Regions from separate parts of the Homo sapiens genome. Here region 1 is linked to region 2. Evidence: fine-mapped expression QTL. A gene starts in region 2. The other region holds a variant in brackets. All regions are shown on one strand. Distances are from middle to middle.

Region 1 (8,392 bases), 43 kb before region 2:
AAGCCCGGAGAGAGCACCCACCCTGGGTAGTGAGGCCTGGTCCCAGCGCCCCAACCCTGCCTCCCTGGTGCGCTTCTCAGCAGAGCAGCAGAGCCCCCACAGGAATGAGGGGGGTGATGGCTGCACTCCAAGCCAGATGCCAGCATTCCTGAGGCTAGAACTGCTCATCCGGTTTATAAATCATTCCCAAAGGCTAGGAACCTTGGGCCCTGCTGGCTTCCTCACCCCATTTTGTCTTGTCCTGACCAATACATAGGACATTTGTGAGGTGCCACCAAAGGGTGCAGACACAGAACCCTTCAAAGGTGGGAGTCCCGCTGGAGTCTAAACAGCTTTGGGGAGATGACTGCCTCAAACCTGTTTGAGTTTTGCTTCCTAGCAAAGCTAAAAAGAGAGGAAATGAAAGTTTGTGTAGGGAGTGACAGAAATGAAAACAACAGATTGGAAGGATTCCATTTTCATTTATTGAAAAGCTGATATTGGAAGGTAGGAGGGTCCAAGGAAAACAACTCCAAGGTACGATATATGAAGGGCTGCAGATGACTGTCCAGTGCCGCTGGCACGCCTGGCTGGAAATCAACAGAGCTGTGCACAGCCCTGTGGCTAAAGCTGGAGGAAGGAGATATCCAGAACGTTCTGTTCCTTTAGTCAGTGGTCCCACACTATTCTACAAGGACAAGCTCAAGAGGCTTAAGTACACAAAACAAGAGACAAGATAGGAGAAACACGGAAAACTGAAGACTCGTTGCATAACTCCAAACCTTCCGGGTGGCTGACACGGCAGGCAGAGCCACTGAGGACAACATAGCTCTGCCTCCTCACAGAAGCAAGGCAACATCAGAACGTCCTTGGTGGCATCAACAGTGGCTGTACTTGACATGGCCAGTTAAGAACCTGCCCTACTTTATCTGGATGGAGGGACTCTTGTTCCCAAAAAGTTAAATGGGGCAGAATATAAGCAGTGACTGGAATCCAGGAAGGGCCTGACATCTTATGATACATAGACAGGTCTGGTGACCTCCGTGACATTTTCTGTTCCCTTCATAGTCTTGGTGTCAGGAGAGGAGATGCAGAATGAAGATGACAGCATGCTTCTCAAACATGCATGGATGGGAGCACTTGCGACTCAGAGCTCCACCTCTGCCAGCCCTCAAATGCTCTTCAAGGACTTTCACAAAATGCTTCTCTTTGAGCTCAAGAGAAGTGGCTGCTGACCACCCTATATATAGTAACTGAGTAAGGTCAGAGGACTGACGATGGCAAAGGGCCTGCAGACAGCTGTCCCTGCAAAGGTCTGGATATCCAATGACAGATATGGTGTTCACCCCTGGAGACCTCACCTAACATCCACAGTGGTGCACAAATGAATCCATACTCCCTAAAGCTTTCCCAGGCCACCCCTGGCCAACTGCAAGCCACTTCCACCACAAAGACCCACCTGCCTCTCTGTGTTCATGCAACACCCAACTGTATAAGTCCCTACAGGACCGTGCTTCTCCCCTACCTCTGGGCCTGTCTGGAATGTTCTGTCTACTAGCCCACCTATTCCTTCTACCTGGCCATCTCCCCTGCTGAAGCTTTGAGACTGTGAGTTCTAGAGACAGAGATGTGGGTTTGACTCTAGGTTTTGTACCTTCTGGCTGGAAGTCCTAGTCATTCCTTCTCTGAATCTTAGCTGTGAGAAGTCAGTGAGATCATGCATGTAAAAGTGCTTAGCACAAGTCAGCACATATACATGTGCCTTGTTGCCACCAGGCTGGTTTGAGAGCATATGTTACTGCAATGGCAATATATTGAGATAAGTCCTTGCCTTTCTCCTTACAACAGACGACCGTGACCTCCTTGAAGGAAGGGACCCTGTCTTTCATCTGTTTGTTCTAGAACCTGACCCAGAGCCTCCCACTTTAGCAGGTGCTCCATCAGCTCCAGCTGAGCTATCACCAACCAGAAGATGTAGCAGCGGGTGGGGTCACCACAATTCAGGGAACTCCTCAGCTTTCTTCCATGGAACTCAGAGTAAGCGTGGATGGCAGATGGTATGGTGTGTGCATGTGCAACGTGCCAAGTCAATATACGTGTGTGGCAGGAAAACAATGGAGCCCTGTAACTCAGAGGCTTCCAGAAATGGGAGAAGGGGGAACCCAGGTTTTGACACTCCAGGCCAGGGTCCCGGTACACCATTCCTGAGACTTAGAAGCTCATGGTGTTCACTGGGTTGGAATGGACCTAGATTGGAGACCCTGGAACAGCTGAGGCACCATTTATCTGTCTTTGACCTTGTCTAGACCATGCTGAGGGGACAGCTGGGGGCCTGGCCTGGGATGGCAAGGCCCAGAGAAAGCATGCACCAAAGCTGTGAACCAGAGGCCCCGGCTGAATCTAGGAAAGGACATGTTTCATTTGGTCCTCATAGAGGTAAAAACACGTTTTAAGTTAGCTGTCCATATTTGGAAATTGGGATATTTCACATAAAATTCCTACCTCAGCAAGCAACTGAGGCTGAGCAGGGCTGCCCTGTGAGGGGCAGGTATCCCATCCCACCCCACCCCACCCCACCCCCGGGGCCAGGCTGCTTCTCTCACACTTGCCTCCCACCCTGACGCTGAGTCATTTCTCACTGTGCCTTGGCTCCTGCTTTTTCCACTTGTACCAAGGACAGTGCCATCCGGCCCACTTCCCTTATCTGGCCTTCTGCTGCCGCTTCGGGCATTTGCGCTGGTGGTCCCTGTGCAGCTGGGCCGCTCCTCATCCCTGGCTGACTTACCCCCGCCCCCTGGCAGCACTGCCTCCAGGACCCACCTTTGCCCAGCCCTGAGGTGGCGCCTGTGATCACCACCACAGCATTCCGCAGGTAGGCCTTCCCGCGCACCCACTGCAGCAGCCGGAAGAGGCCGAAGACGCCCAGGCAGCCGAACAGCAGGGGCAGGATGGCTGTGGAGGTGATGAAGTCCATGGCCTTCACCTTCGGCAGACTCTTCCTGGAAGAACCAAAACCAAACACACCAGTGACAAAGTAGCAGAGTTCAGGGGACTTTCCTAGGCTCTTCCTCTCATCTGATATGAATCCCAGATCTCCCTCTGTGGACTCCAGCTCTAAGCCCTAGCAAGCATTGACCCAGGCCCTGCACCCTCGGCCGACTGTTCAGCATTGTAGAACTTTCTTCCTCTCAGTACTGACATGAGCGGACAGAAAAGCCACAGGCCTCATGCTGCCCCTCAGGGAACAAGCGGAGATTGCCATTCAGCCTAGGACATAGTCACCCACAGTGTTACAGGAAGAGGTGGTGTGTCAGTACTCACCTGCCTCTCCTTCGGAAACCTGTGTTGGCCTTACCTCAAGTAATGCCTGTTTTCATTTTCAATCCCTGAATACTTGTGAAACTAGAAAGGGGTTTTTTGAGGAAAGGAAAAAGGAAGTCGTACCAATTCTTATCCTCTTCAGAGCAGACACTCAGAGGACGGACGTTTCTGGGTGGAGCAGCCCCTAGACTGTTACAGTGAGGGCCACAGATGGACTTCTGACCACAGGCCTCACAGACACCCAAAGGGGATTCAGTGCAGGGCCCTGCCCCAAGCACCAGCATGGGCTCCGGCCGGTGAGCGTGCTGCCCCGCTGTGCCTGTGGCATGTTCCTGCCCAGCATTCCCCAGTGAGCCATGAAATCTGGAGGCTGTATGAGTGTCTGTGCAACAGTGTGCAGTTGATTCTTAGAAAATGTGTGTTTTTCCCCATCTGCCCTTATTTCCCCTGAACCTCCCCCATTCCTCCGCATTCACCTGTCCTCCTGTGCCCAAAGCAGGAGATAAGAGGGGGACACAGGGTTAAAGGAAGGCTGAGGAGGAGCTGGTGAGGACCGTGGTGAGCACCATGTGCTGTCGCTGGGAAGCAATGCCCTGGAAGGCCACTTGACGAGCGAGCCAGAGTCTATGAGACAAAAGGCCCCCCCCGAGTCCACCTCCAGGGCTGTGGTTTACGAGCACAGAATCCTTCTCAGGAAGGAAGAGGCTGGAATCCAAGAAGAGAGTTCTGGCAAACCAGACTGTAGCTCTAAATTATTCATAAGCTTGGAGCAATAATGTAAAACCCTCAGCCACCTACTTAATATCCCATCTCAAGCCCACATATAAAAAAAAAATTCTGCTTCCTTTCGTAAGA[G/T]GACATCAACTCTGGATGCCAGAGTGAAGCCAGGAACACTGTGGACTCCCAACACACATCCATCTATGCACCAAGTCGCTTTGATCCTGAAGTTCATGTTCAGGGTGGCTGTCCTGATCTATGCTAAATTGCCCCCTACAAGAGGATTCTACTGCAACGGAACTGTCAACTGAACTAGATTAGCATTTACTTTTTCACCTGCTTTTCCAGATACACCTGAATTCTTAACCACCATAAAAAACAGCCACATTCTTGGACTGTAAAAATGACAGTTTCCCATCAACTGCCACTTAATCCACCTCTGAAAACACCTCAGCTACTATCTGCTGCATGGATAAAGCTCCCTCTTGCCCTACACTATGCCAAGCCTCCATTGTATGAACTGGGGATTAAGGTGGTATCTAAAGCACCAAGCTTTTCACCAGGCACTACTGGTACCATCCCTGCCCCAAGAGGAAGTTCTGACCAGGTGTTCTTGCCTGCAGGCTATGCTGGGTCCCAAGGACCCTTTGTGTGGAATCTGAGAAGTGCTCAGGAAAGCTGTAGAGTAGGCACCGAGGCCTGTGCCACTCCAGGGTTCTGTGGGTGCTGCCTGGAGTCCTGCACGGGACCAAGATCCTGAAAACAGGGAATGTGGGAGGGTTTCCTAGGGGAAGGAGGGATAAACAGTGGGAGGCAGGAATGGTTGCCATTTTGTTGATATAGCTTTACCAGAAAATTACAGCAATTGACAAAAGGCAAGAGAAGGCTCCAGGCAAGGATAGCTTAAAACTTGCATGTAATAAGCTGGTTGAGGGGTGGGGGCTTGGGAAGAGTTCAACCCGGCTGGATGGCTATTTGGTAAAAGCTTTTTTCTCACTGCAATCCCAGGTCTTTGTACCAGGTAGGTCTCAGGGTAGGACCACCCTGCCTTGTCCAGAATGGCCCAGGGCCCAGCCACTGCCCAGGATGAGCTTGAGGTATGAAAGGGGTGGGGGCCTCAGCTCAGGGAAGGATAGTAGGGCTCAGCCTCTGGGGCCGGGACCCAGAGCCCCACTAGGCGTGTTGGGTGGAAACCCCTCCGAACACTCCTCCGTGGGCCCCTGGAGGCCAGTGCCTGTGAAGTCCACCCAATTTCAAATTGACAACCTGGGGCTGAGGCACAGTGCCACCGAGGTCATGGGGGTCAAGAGCCAAGTATGCAGCCTGTCGCTTCTCAAAACTCAGAGACCACTTGAAAAACACTAACTGCAGCACAACAGCGGCAGTGCAGGGGTCATGAGGATGAACCCTCAAGCCAGCCTGGCTTGGGTGACACCCTGGCCCAGTCACTTGGCAGCCTGGCAAAGGGGCCTCACTGCCCTGGGCCTCAGTGTCCTCGCCTCTGAGCTGAAGTTGTGAGAGGACCTCCCTCCTGGGTTTGTTATGAGGTTGGATGAATTCATCTGTACACAGAGGGAACACAGCTGCCACCAGCATCATAATGACCACCATTAACTCAAAGTTCCTGGATCAGGACCTCACCTCCCAGCAATCCGACTCCCAAGACTGTCTGAAGGGACCCCTGGCTTGTGAAGTGTGGTTCTTTCCAAATAAAGGAAGCTCATTAAATGTATTAAGTGTCCAATGTTGTTTAACTTCTATATTTTCATAAACCTTTCAGTTTAATCAAATTAACAAATAGGAAAAAACTCCACAACATTGGCAGAAGTCAGGCTCTCATGTCCCAAGTTTTGTGTTAGAAAATGTGGTTATCAAGGCCAGCAAAGCAGGAGAGAGCAGACAGGTACTAAAATGTCCCTCAACCCCGTCTTCACACCCAGGGAGGAGCAGGATGAAAATAAACCAGCCCAGCAAGGCTCCCCAGTGGAAGATGATTAAAGTTCCCAACAAATTGCACTTTCATGCAACCTAATTAAAACTCAAGCCAGCAATCCATGACATGAAGAAAAGAGCGAAAACTACACACCGTCTTGTACACTTCTGGGATTCCTTGAGCACCTGACACAACATCACAGGCCAGCCTTGGTCTCCTGGCCCTGGAGACCACTTTGCCTGAGGCAAACATGGCGCCGGGTGAATGGGATCCATCCTTGGCCCGGGCCGCTGTCTGTGGGGAGAGCGCATGTCTGCATTCAGTCTGGTAAAGTGCTATCGAATCAGAATGCAAAGCAAATTAAAAGCCAGTGCCAAGGCCAAACGCAGTGCCTCGCGCCTGTAATTCCAGCACTTTGGGAGGCTGAGGTAGGGGGATCGCTTCAGCCTGGGAATTCAAGACCAGCCCGGGCAACATGGTGAAATCCCGTCTCTACAAAAAACACATAAACTAACCAGGTATGGTAGTGCACGTCTGTAGTCCCAGCTTCTTGGGAGGCTGAGGTGGGAGGATTGCTTGAGCCTAGGAAGTTGAGGCTACAGTGAGCCAAGATTGCACCACTGCACTCCAGCCTGGGTGACAAAGTGAGGCCCTGTCTCAAAAGCAAACAAAAAACAAAATCCAGTGCCAACTCTCCCCTGCTAACAAAGAATGACCATGGTGGGAAAAGACACCCCAGAGTGAGCCATTTATCTGAGAATCAGGTTCAATTCCAGCATAACTTTCCTGACTAGATGAAGTTGTTCATATTGATAATCCCGACTCTTTCCAGAGTTTTTCAAACTCTGAAAGCCCTCCTAATAGTTCTTCCACTATGCAGGGCATGTGGCCACACTGCTGGGCCTTCTTGGGTTCTTAGAGACAGCTGTGCCAACACTTTCCTAGCTTGTCTTTGGAAGTCAGGATGACCATGAGAGCTAGCCATGGAAAGCCCCACCACCTTGCTGTGGTGTCCAGGGCTTTCTACCAGCTAAAAGGACAGCTTCACAGTGGAAGAAAGGAACAGTGTTCTAGCTGGCCACATTTCCAGATTAGGAAATAAATCTACATAAAGCAAGGTCAAAGGGAGGCCTGTTTTCTTTGAAAATGGCATACAAGAAGGATTTATATATATGTATAAACTTTAATATATTTATCAATCATGCATTTTATACCAAAATCCTTATTAACTGCTAGTTTCAGATATATAGCCAGATCATGGACTGAGAAGGCAAGATTGATGGTATAAAAAGGGACTGGGAAAAAATATCTGGCTCACGATTTTCAGCATTTGGAGATCAGCTTGTAGAAAGAAGGGACAGAGTCTGTCTAGCACCACTGTGAGCCATGGCAGAAAGCAGGACAGAGACATGGGGAGAGAGAGTGAAGCCAGAAAAAGAAGGTGAGAGCCCCTCAAATAGAAACCATAGTGCACACGGCATCTGGAAGCAGAGGGCACCACCTACACATGGAATGTGTGCAGTCATAGTCACACTCTTAGTCCTTGGGCAAGAGACCTGAAACACAGTCTCACACTGATGAGACTCACGAACTGGCGTGAGGAAGGGAGAGAGCTCAGGGGCTCACATATTAATACTGTCTGCTTATATTTTCATCCCTTGCCAGATCCATGAGCTCTAGACCCAGGTTAAAAGAGTGCAAAGGTAGCAAAGTCCCGCTAAGGGTGAGGGTTCCTTGGGCCCGGGCAGCCAGAGTTCGGGGCTTCTCTCTGTGATTCTGCTGCTCCTTTACTTTCTGCTGAACCCACCACTGTGTAACTCCCTCACATCCATTTGTGCAGCTCATCCACCCTTTAAAGGGCTTCTGGAACCTCAAATTAGACATGAGACTATCACCAAGAAATCAACTCTGAGCACAAATGTCACCCTTTATGTCATCCATTCCATTCCTTCTACTTTGGCCAAAATTCTCCCTTGCATTTCACAGACGGAATCCGTTCCTAAGATTCCTTTCTCTCGAGCATTTTTTTTTTTAAAGAACTGTTAACAAAAATAGGTTGTTGGAAGCTACTCAGAAACCACATACAGAAATTAAACTACTAACAGCCACATCTGAGAATCAAAGGAGGGGATCTCAAAACCCACCAAAGTTTTTTTTAAAAAGAACAATTTCAGGTCTGTAAGAAGGATTAGCCATGAAATAATTTGCCATGTTACACACAAGAAAATCAGGCTAAAGGGCAGAGAGGAGTTCCAACTGGAAGGAAAGACACTGAAATCACACGGCAAGGAGTGGCTTAGTATTGCTAAAGCAGTTAGGATCCTGCTCCCACAAACCTACACGTACTCTTTTATTTTATAACCAATGGCCAGTTCTAATCAGCTGCTCTATTTAAGGTGACATAAACTATGGGTCATGCTTATGACCCATATCTTGAAATAT
Region 2 (8,392 bases):
CTAAATCACAAGATGAGATAGGAGGTCACATAAGATACAGGTCAGAAAGACCTTGCTGATAAAGCAGGCTGAGGTAAAGAAGCCGGCCAAAACCCACCAAATGGAAAATGGCAATGAAAGTGACCTCTGGTCATCCTCACTGCTCATTATATGCTAATTATAAGGCATTAGCTCGCTAAAAGACACTCCTACCAGCACCATAACAGTTTACAAATGCCATGGCAATGTCAAGAAGTTACCCTATATAGTCTACGAAGGGGAGGAACTCTCAGTTCCGGGAATTACCCACCCCTTTCCTAGAAAATTCATGAATAATCCACCCCTTCTTTAGCATATAATCAGGAAATGACCATAAAAGTGGCCAGCCAGCAGCCCTCAGGGCTGCTTTGCCTATGGAGTAGCCATTCTCTTGTTTCTTTACTTTTCTAATAAACTTGCTTTCACTTTTCTCTATGGATTGGCCTCAAATTATTTCTTACACAAGATCCAAGAACCCTCTCTTGAGGTCTGGATCAAGACTCTTCTCCAGTAGCAAATTCAGTGGCCATCACAGACCTCTCCCTCCACTAAGCAGTTTAAATGGCCAAGCCTCATGTTACTGGGAACTTTAGAAGATAGGAGGGAGAGCTCAGGTAAAATCCTAAGGAATTTGTTGTATTTCCTATCTGGGTGGGTGGCAAGAAGCTTTCAAACTGAATTTACACACCATTCAATCCCAATTTTCACCCTCATGCTTATGGCCTTCCAGAATAGAGAGTTCATTTTTGCATTAAAATAACATTGGCTACCAAAGAAAGGTTTCTTATGTGTATAATGGGGTGGGAATGAATAATTCCTACACCATCCAACATTATGGATGTTGCTCTAGTCCAACATTTTACTGTACTGTAAGTAAATTTTTTTTTTAGTTGTCATGCAAACATATAGTAAAAATTTTAAAACTGAATTTTCACTGTTTCCAAAGGGAAAGAGATCTTCTCTCCTTCCTTTTCCTCACAGCATTTCTTTGAAAAACCCAGTATTTATAAATTATTCCTCTGTCCCTTTGATATGTATGCAAATCTTTTTAAAGGCTAAATAAACTACCCCTAGCTTAGCTTGTTTAAACCCAGTAAATACAGTAAAACCCAGGACTGTTTTTCTGAAGGGCCTGGAACCCCCCCTTTACAAACGTACGTACATACATACGTAAGTTTATTTATTTATTTATTTATTTATTTTTTGAGGTGGAGTCTCACTCTGTAGCCCAGGCTGGAGTACAGTGACACAATCTCGACTCATTGCAACCTCTGCTTCCCAGTTCAAGCGATTCTCCTGCCTCAGCCTCCTGAGTAGCTGGGATTACAGGCACACGCCACCACACATTTTTGTATTTTTAATAGAGACGGGGTTCGCCATGTTGGCCAGGCTGGTCTCGAACTCCTGACCTCAGGTGATCTGCCCTCCTCAGCCTCCCAAAGTACTGGGATTACAGGCGTGAGCCACCGTGCTCAGCCAAACCCCCTATTTTAAATGGAAATATCCAGGAAGACAATGCCCCAGCCCTATCCCTATCACTGTGGAAGTTTAGCCTAGGCACCTCAACTACTTGTTTTATCATAGAGCTGTTTCATGTTTTCCTTTGGAAAAAAGTAACTAGGTAGCACAGATGACCAACCCAATTACCAGGTGAATTTAGAATGAACTATGAAAACATGTACAGCAAATGGTGCTGTCAAGTCTTCTTATAAGAGGACAAATTACCATTAATCTTGAGACTACATAATGGGTTGTATCTGCTCAGCTGCATACAAATAAGTGGTGGGATTTCTTTTCTGAAAGAAACTGCATTAGCATATTATCCATAATACATTCCAGTCTGGTTTAATGCTTATTTTTTTCTTTTTCTTTTTTTTTTTTTTTTTTTTGAGTCAGGGTCTTACTCTGCTGCCCAGGCTGGAGTGCCGTAGTATTATCACAGTTTACTGTAGCCGCAAACTCCTGGGCTCAAGTGATCCTCCTGACTCAGCCTTCTGAGTAACTGGGACAACAGGTACACACCAGCACGCCTAGATAATTTTTTATTTTTTGTAGAAATGGGGTCTCCCTATGTTGCCCAGGCTAGTCTCAAACTCCTGGCCTCACATGATCCTCCCACCTCAGCCTCCCAAAGCGCTCGGATTATAGGTGTGAGCCACCACCTACAGCCTCACAGGGGTCTTTAAGTAACAAGATACAAGCTCCTCCTAGTCTCAAGACCTCACACATGCCCTTCCCTCCTCCTGTTAGCTCTTTGTCCAATTTAACTCCAACTCAGTCCTTTAAGTCTCAGCTAAATATTATTTTCTTGGGAAAGCCTTCCCTGTCTCTCCTCATTTCCCCCTCCGCATGCCGGTGACTCCATTATGTATCCTCACAGCACCCTCTACTGTCCTCCACAGCATGCATCACAATCGTAATTAATATTTAGTTTTATTTATATATTTACTATCTCCCTTGCTAGATTTATAAGCAATTTAAAGACAGGGGCTTTATCTGTTTTGATCATCATTGTATCCACAACACCCAGCACAATGCTGGTACACTGTAAACGTTCAATAAGTATCTGAAGGAATGAATGAAATTTGTAGCTAAGCGCTAGGTTCTGGAGTGACATGGCATTGGATCGGCCTTTACTAGCTCTATGCCTTTGTTGTTGTTTGTTGTTGTTGTTGTTGTTGTTTGAGACAGGGTGTCACTTTTTTTTTTTTTTTTTTTTTAAGACGGAGTCTCCTCGCTCTTGTCGCCCAGGCTGGAATGCAGTGGCGGCATCTCGGCTCACTGCAACCTCTGCCTCCCAGGTTCAAGCGATTCTCCTGCCAAAGCCTCCCGAGTAGCTGGGATTACAGGCGCCCACCACCACGCCCGGCTAATTTTTGTTTGTTTGTTTGTTTTGAGACAGAGTCTCACTATGTCGCCCAGGCTGGAGTGCAGCGGCGGGATCTCGGCTCACTGCAAGCTCCGCCATCCGGAGCACGCCATTCTCCTGCCTCAGCCTCCCTAGTAGCTGGGACTACAGACGCCCGCCACCAAGCCCAGCCAATTTTTTTGAATTTTTTTAGTAGAGACGGGGTTTCACCGTGTTAGCCAGGATGGTCTCGAGGTCCTGACCTCGTGATCCGCCCGCCTTGGCCTCCCAAAGTGCTGGAAATACAGGCGTGAGCCACCGCGCCCAGCCAATTTTTGTATTTTTTAGTAGAGACGGGGTTTCACCACGTTGGCCAGGCTGGTCTCGAACTCCTGACCTCAGGTGATCCGCCCGCCTCAGCCTCCTAAAGTGCTGGGATTACATGTGTGAGCCACTGCGCCCAGCCAAGACAGGGTCTCACTTTGTCACCCAGACTTGAATGCAATGGCGTGATCTCGGCTCACTGCAGCCTGTCTCCCAGGTTCAAGCAATCCACTTGCCTCAGCCCCAACAAATAGCTGGGACTACAGGCGTGTGCTACCTTGCCTGGCTAATAGCTCTATGCCTTTGGATAAACTTCTTAACATCTCTAAGCCCATTTCTCCCTCCATAAATAAAAATTATAGTTCCTATGATTAGGGTTATTACAGGATTGAATAATTCAGTAAAGGGATTAGTACAGTGCCTGTAACATAGCAAACACTCAAAAAATATCAACTATTATTAAGGAATGGAGAAAAGGGGACATGTACATGGTAGGGAAGGCATATTCCACACCCTTGGCAAAGGCACAAACATAGCTTCCATTATGCAAACACACCGTTGCAATCGGCAACAGTGTAAGCAAGAATTCTGCTTACTAAATGTATGAGTGTGTGAAACCCAAACGTTACTTCAAAAGTAACTTCACGATTCTCCAATCACTACATGGAAGGTTTGGAAACTGAAAAAAAGAGCATTATGTGGCTACCATTTGTTGAATACCTACTATGTGCCAGACACCAGCTGAGCACCTTGCACGCGCAGTCTCATTTACGCTTCACAACAACCTTATGAGTGGGCTTGTTACTCCCAAAGTTACAGCTGAAGAAACACTCAGAGTTTAAAACATTTGCCCAAAGCCGCACAGCCAGGAAGCCGCAGAGTAAGTATTGGAAGAGCAAGATATCTCAACCAGCCATTCCCGTGGACGCTCGAGTCAGCACCCTCCTCCTGCCTTCTGAAAAACCGGACTTCCTTTGCTAGTCCTAACTCGCCGTCACTGGCTAAGGTGCCACTGGCCCCCAGCGCTCAACCCTCGGTCCTGCCACTCGCAGACGCTGCGGAGCCTCCCCTACGTCGCGCAGAAATGTGGGAATAAACAGGTTGAAGCCAGGAGCCCTGTGGGCGCGAGGCCTTTCACACACAGCGCCCGGCGCGACACCCATTCCCAGCAGCGGAAACTGGACTCAAGACACCTCGGCGACAGGCGGGTTTCCCCGCCACGCACTCGCCGGAGCCAGGGCTCTGGTCCCAGCGCCTGGGCTGAGTCTTCCTTCAGAGTTCGGCGTCGCGGGGATCCGGAAGCCGCCCAGGGCCCGCGGCCTTAGCTCGACCACTACACCGCTTCCCCTCACCCAAGCCGGGGCGTCGCCTCAGCTCAAGGCCAGACCCTATCGCCTCATCTCGGAGGTTCCTTCTTCCCCAGCCCCTACCTGGTAGCCGGAGAGACCATAGTCAATCAACTTCATCCTCCCGCCTCGGAAGTGACGTGTACGCAGCCGGCGAGGCTCCGTCCAATCCCAGCATTGAGGCTGCGCATGCGCGTTGGGTGGGCGTCCCTCAAGGTGTACACAGGACCCGATGGACCCGAGATCTGATAGGGTCCACCCGCATAACTACAGTGCCTTCATCTTCCGGAGGGAAATTCCGAAGGTCGTGGTTGGTGTTCCGTGGACTTCCGGCGAAGAACACAGTTGGAGAATTCACGATACAGTTATCAAGATGATTATAATGCCACAGTAATCAGAACAGTGTGATAACTGGCACAAAGGTAAAAACAATGAATGAAAAAGAGAGAGACCAGAAACAGACCTGCAGCTATGTAGTCACTTTTTCCTCCTACAAGTAGCCACTGTAATGCAATAAGAAGAGTTTTTTCAATATATAGTGCTAGGTCAATTGAAGGTCGATTGGGGGGAAATGAACCTTGACTCCTATCTCAAGTAAAATAATTCTAGACGGATGGTAGACCTGAATGTGAACAATACAACTCTAGACAATAAAATCGCAGAATATTATGACCATAAGAGAGGAAAATAACGTGTTAGCAGAACACAAAAAGTGCCAGTCCTAAAGGAAAAAGCTGATAAATTGGGTGTCTGTAACTATAAGACACCGAAAAGACCCCATTGAGAAAAGGGAAAGACAATAGAACAGACAAGATATTTGTAATACATATATCTGAAAATGAATTTTATTCAGAATATGTACGTACTTCTTGCAAGTAAATTTTTTAAAGGACCCGAAGTGATTTAAAAAAAAAAAAAAAGCATGAAAAGAGGATATTGAGAGAGTAAAGGGCAGAGGAAGGAAGGGGCAGGGCAGAGGAAGGAAGGGGCGGGGGGACTCTTATCGTTCAAAATCATAAGATGGCAAATGTGTGTAAGGTGGAAAATCTCCCTTTCTGTTCTCCAGGACCCACTTCACCTCCCCCTAGGTAACGATGCTATTAGCTATGTGTGTCCTTCCAGAGCCAGTTTATTCATAACCAAGCAATTATGTATGTATTCAGCACCCCCTTGTTACACAAACAATAGCATTCTGAAACGTCCTTCTGTTTCTTGCTTTTATTAACTTTAGCGAATTAATATATCCTGGAAATTCTTACAGATATTCACAAAATCTGAAAATGGGAAATTTTATTTTTAACTAAATATTTATTTTTGACGTTTTCACAAAAGTTTTTATACCTTTCTGGCCCCTCTCCATTGTTCTGGAAACTCTAGATTCCTGCTTGCCAATTCACAAAGTTTGAATATCCTTGTAGCAAACCCAATATGAACCGTAAGGCAGAAAAATAGGGTCTGGAGACAGGGAACCTAAGGCCAATTCACGCTGACTTCCTAGAACTAAATCAAAAGGAAAACCCGAACTTTCCATGCCCAGGTAACAAAAGGAACAGAAGCTAGTCCCTTTGCAACCTGCCCCGCTTTTCTGCCTGGCAGATGAAAAATTGAAGGTACCTCTGATTGGTCCCCTCTTGCAACCAATCAGGCTGATCACAGGCCACTACTTCTTTTACATAGAGTGTACACCAAGTAACCAACGGGAACCCTCTAGAGGGTATTTAAACTCCAGAAAATTCTGTAACCGGGCTCTTGAGCCACCTGCTAGGCAGGCTCCCAACCTGTGGAGTGTGCTTTTGTTTTCAATAAATCTCTGCTTTTGTTGCATCATTCTTTCCTTGCTTTGTTTGTGCGTTTTGTCCAATTGTTTGTTCAAAACGCCAAGAACCTGGACACTCTCCACTGGTAACACCTGAGTCTTTATTGCATGACTAAGTCAGTTTCCTGGGGTTCATTTCCCAGGCCTGCTACCCTCTTAGCCTACCCACTCTTCAATCCTGCATGGAATTTGTTTTAGAAGCAACTCAATATATTTCAAAGTTTTGGTAACCAATTTGAATTGCATCTGCCAAATGCAAGTGTAAAAACTCTAACTTCGCAGCCAGGATATTATACAAAAAGGATTCCAGTGGGCCGGGTGCAGTGGCTCACACCTGTAATCCAGCATTTTGGAAGGCTGAGGCAGGCGGATCACCTGAGGTCGGGAGTTTGAGATCAGCCTGGCCAACATGGGGAAACCCCATCTACTAAAAATACAAAAAAATCAGCCAGGCATGGTGTCGTTTACCTGTAGTCCCAGCTACTCAGGAGGCTGAGGAAGGAGAATCACTTGAAACCAGGAGGTGGAGGTTGCAGTGAGCAGAGATCATGCCACTGCACTCCAGCCTGGGCAACACAGCGAGACTCCATCTCAAACAAACAAACAAAACAAATAGATTCCAGTGGTTAGCACAGTTCCATGGCCTTCTATGAAAACAAGATGGAAGATTTTTGTTTCCAGGAAGATGAACTAGACACAATTTTCCCTATTCCTTTTACTAAGTACAACTAAAAATTGTGGGCATTATATATAAAACAATCTAAGACTCCAAAAGTTGGAGAGAAGGCAAACCAGCTAGCCACCCTGGGACGCAAGGAACAACATGGTGGGTGTTGCCTTATATATCCCAGACTGGGTGCTAGGAAGCAAGCAACCTGGAAATGCCGACAGGCAAAGACAATGCCCTAAGAAAAGCCTTCTCTCTCTAGCCACAGGACCAGGAAATGGGCAGCCTCAGAGGACAGAAAACGTTTACACAATAATGGCTCTAATCCAGCCCAAACCACAGAAAAAGCCCCATCCCCATGCTTGCCTCTTGGAAAGCCTAGACTGCCACGCATGCTAGGCTGTAAAGAGGCACCACTGTCCCCTCTCCCTGGCATGGTGTCAGAGAAGGCCAAGTGGAGGGCTGGATTTTCTTTTTATTTTTATTTTTTATTTTTTCTTTTTTTTTTGAGACGGAGTCTGGTTCTCTCACCCAAGCTGGAGTGCAGTGGCACAATCTCGGCTCACTGCAACCTCTGCCTCCTGGGTTCAAGCAATTCTCCTGCCTCAGCCTCCTGAGTAGCTGGGATTACAGGCTCACGCCACCACGCCTGGCTAATTTTTGTATTTTTAGTAGAGACGGGGTTTCACCATATTGGCCAGGATGGTCTTGATCTCTTGAGCCTGTGATCCACCCACCTCGGCCTCCTGAAGTGCTGGGATTATAGGCGTGAGCCACCGCGCCCGGCCGAGGGCTGGATTTTCATTCCCACTGAGAGGTGAGGAGACTCTCCCCCAGCATGGTATCAGTGGAAACCATATGGAGAACCTGGACTTCTACCCCACTTAATTGTAAGAAAGCACTCATCCTCTTCCCTGGGGTGATGTCAGAGAGAGTGTTCCATCAAAGCCACCCCCAAAGCCACCCCCAAATGCCCAAGGAGCTGAGAAAACGTAGGAAGCAGACAAATCCAGTTTGTCCATATAGGATAATTATTAGAGGGAGCTTACAGACAGAAGCATGGTCTTGGGTGTCCACAAGGCAGGTGGATCTCCACACAGTAGCCCCGTAGAACCAGGGCTTATATCTTGGGGAAAAAATATACTTACTCTTGGAGGAATGTGTAGATGGTTGAGAGAATGCTGTGGGTGTCACAACCTATGATTTCTGCAACAGCATCAAGGGTTGTTTCTGTAAAAAGGCAAAAGTTACAGTGAATAGGTGATCCGGTATAAAGAGTAATACATCAACTAGACATTTTGGAGGCATTCCTGGAATTGGAGTTAGCGGATTCGCATTGAAAATAGTCACTCTTGTCCCCATAGGGAGCCAAG

Direction of the effects. Alleles are on the strand shown, and positions count from the first base shown. SD is a standard deviation of normalised expression in the study named.
For the expression in fibroblasts of the gene that starts at base 4,648 in region 2, G is the low allele of the variant in region 1 and T is the other (small effect, 0.13 SD a copy in GTEx).

What was found.
Region 1: its variant is fine-mapped to the expression of DHRS7B in fibroblasts (GTEx, PIP 0.94).

What each region holds. Positions count from the first base shown.
Region 1 is chr17:21,166,604-21,174,995 of GRCh38, reverse strand. DHRS7B (dehydrogenase/reductase 7B) reads right to left here. Exons shown (of 7, transcript NM_015510.5): 2 at 2,800-2,978. Among named protein-coding and RNA genes, the nearest start is that of TMEM11, 43 kb to the left of the region's middle. The variant G/T (reference allele first, on the strand shown) is at 4,156.
Region 2 is chr17:21,123,220-21,131,611 of GRCh38, reverse strand. It overlaps DHRS7B (dehydrogenase/reductase 7B), which reads right to left and starts at 4,648. Exons shown (of 7, transcript NM_015510.5): 1 at 4,621-4,648. The coding sequence starts at 4,640. RefSeq lists an enhancer at 4,327-4,986.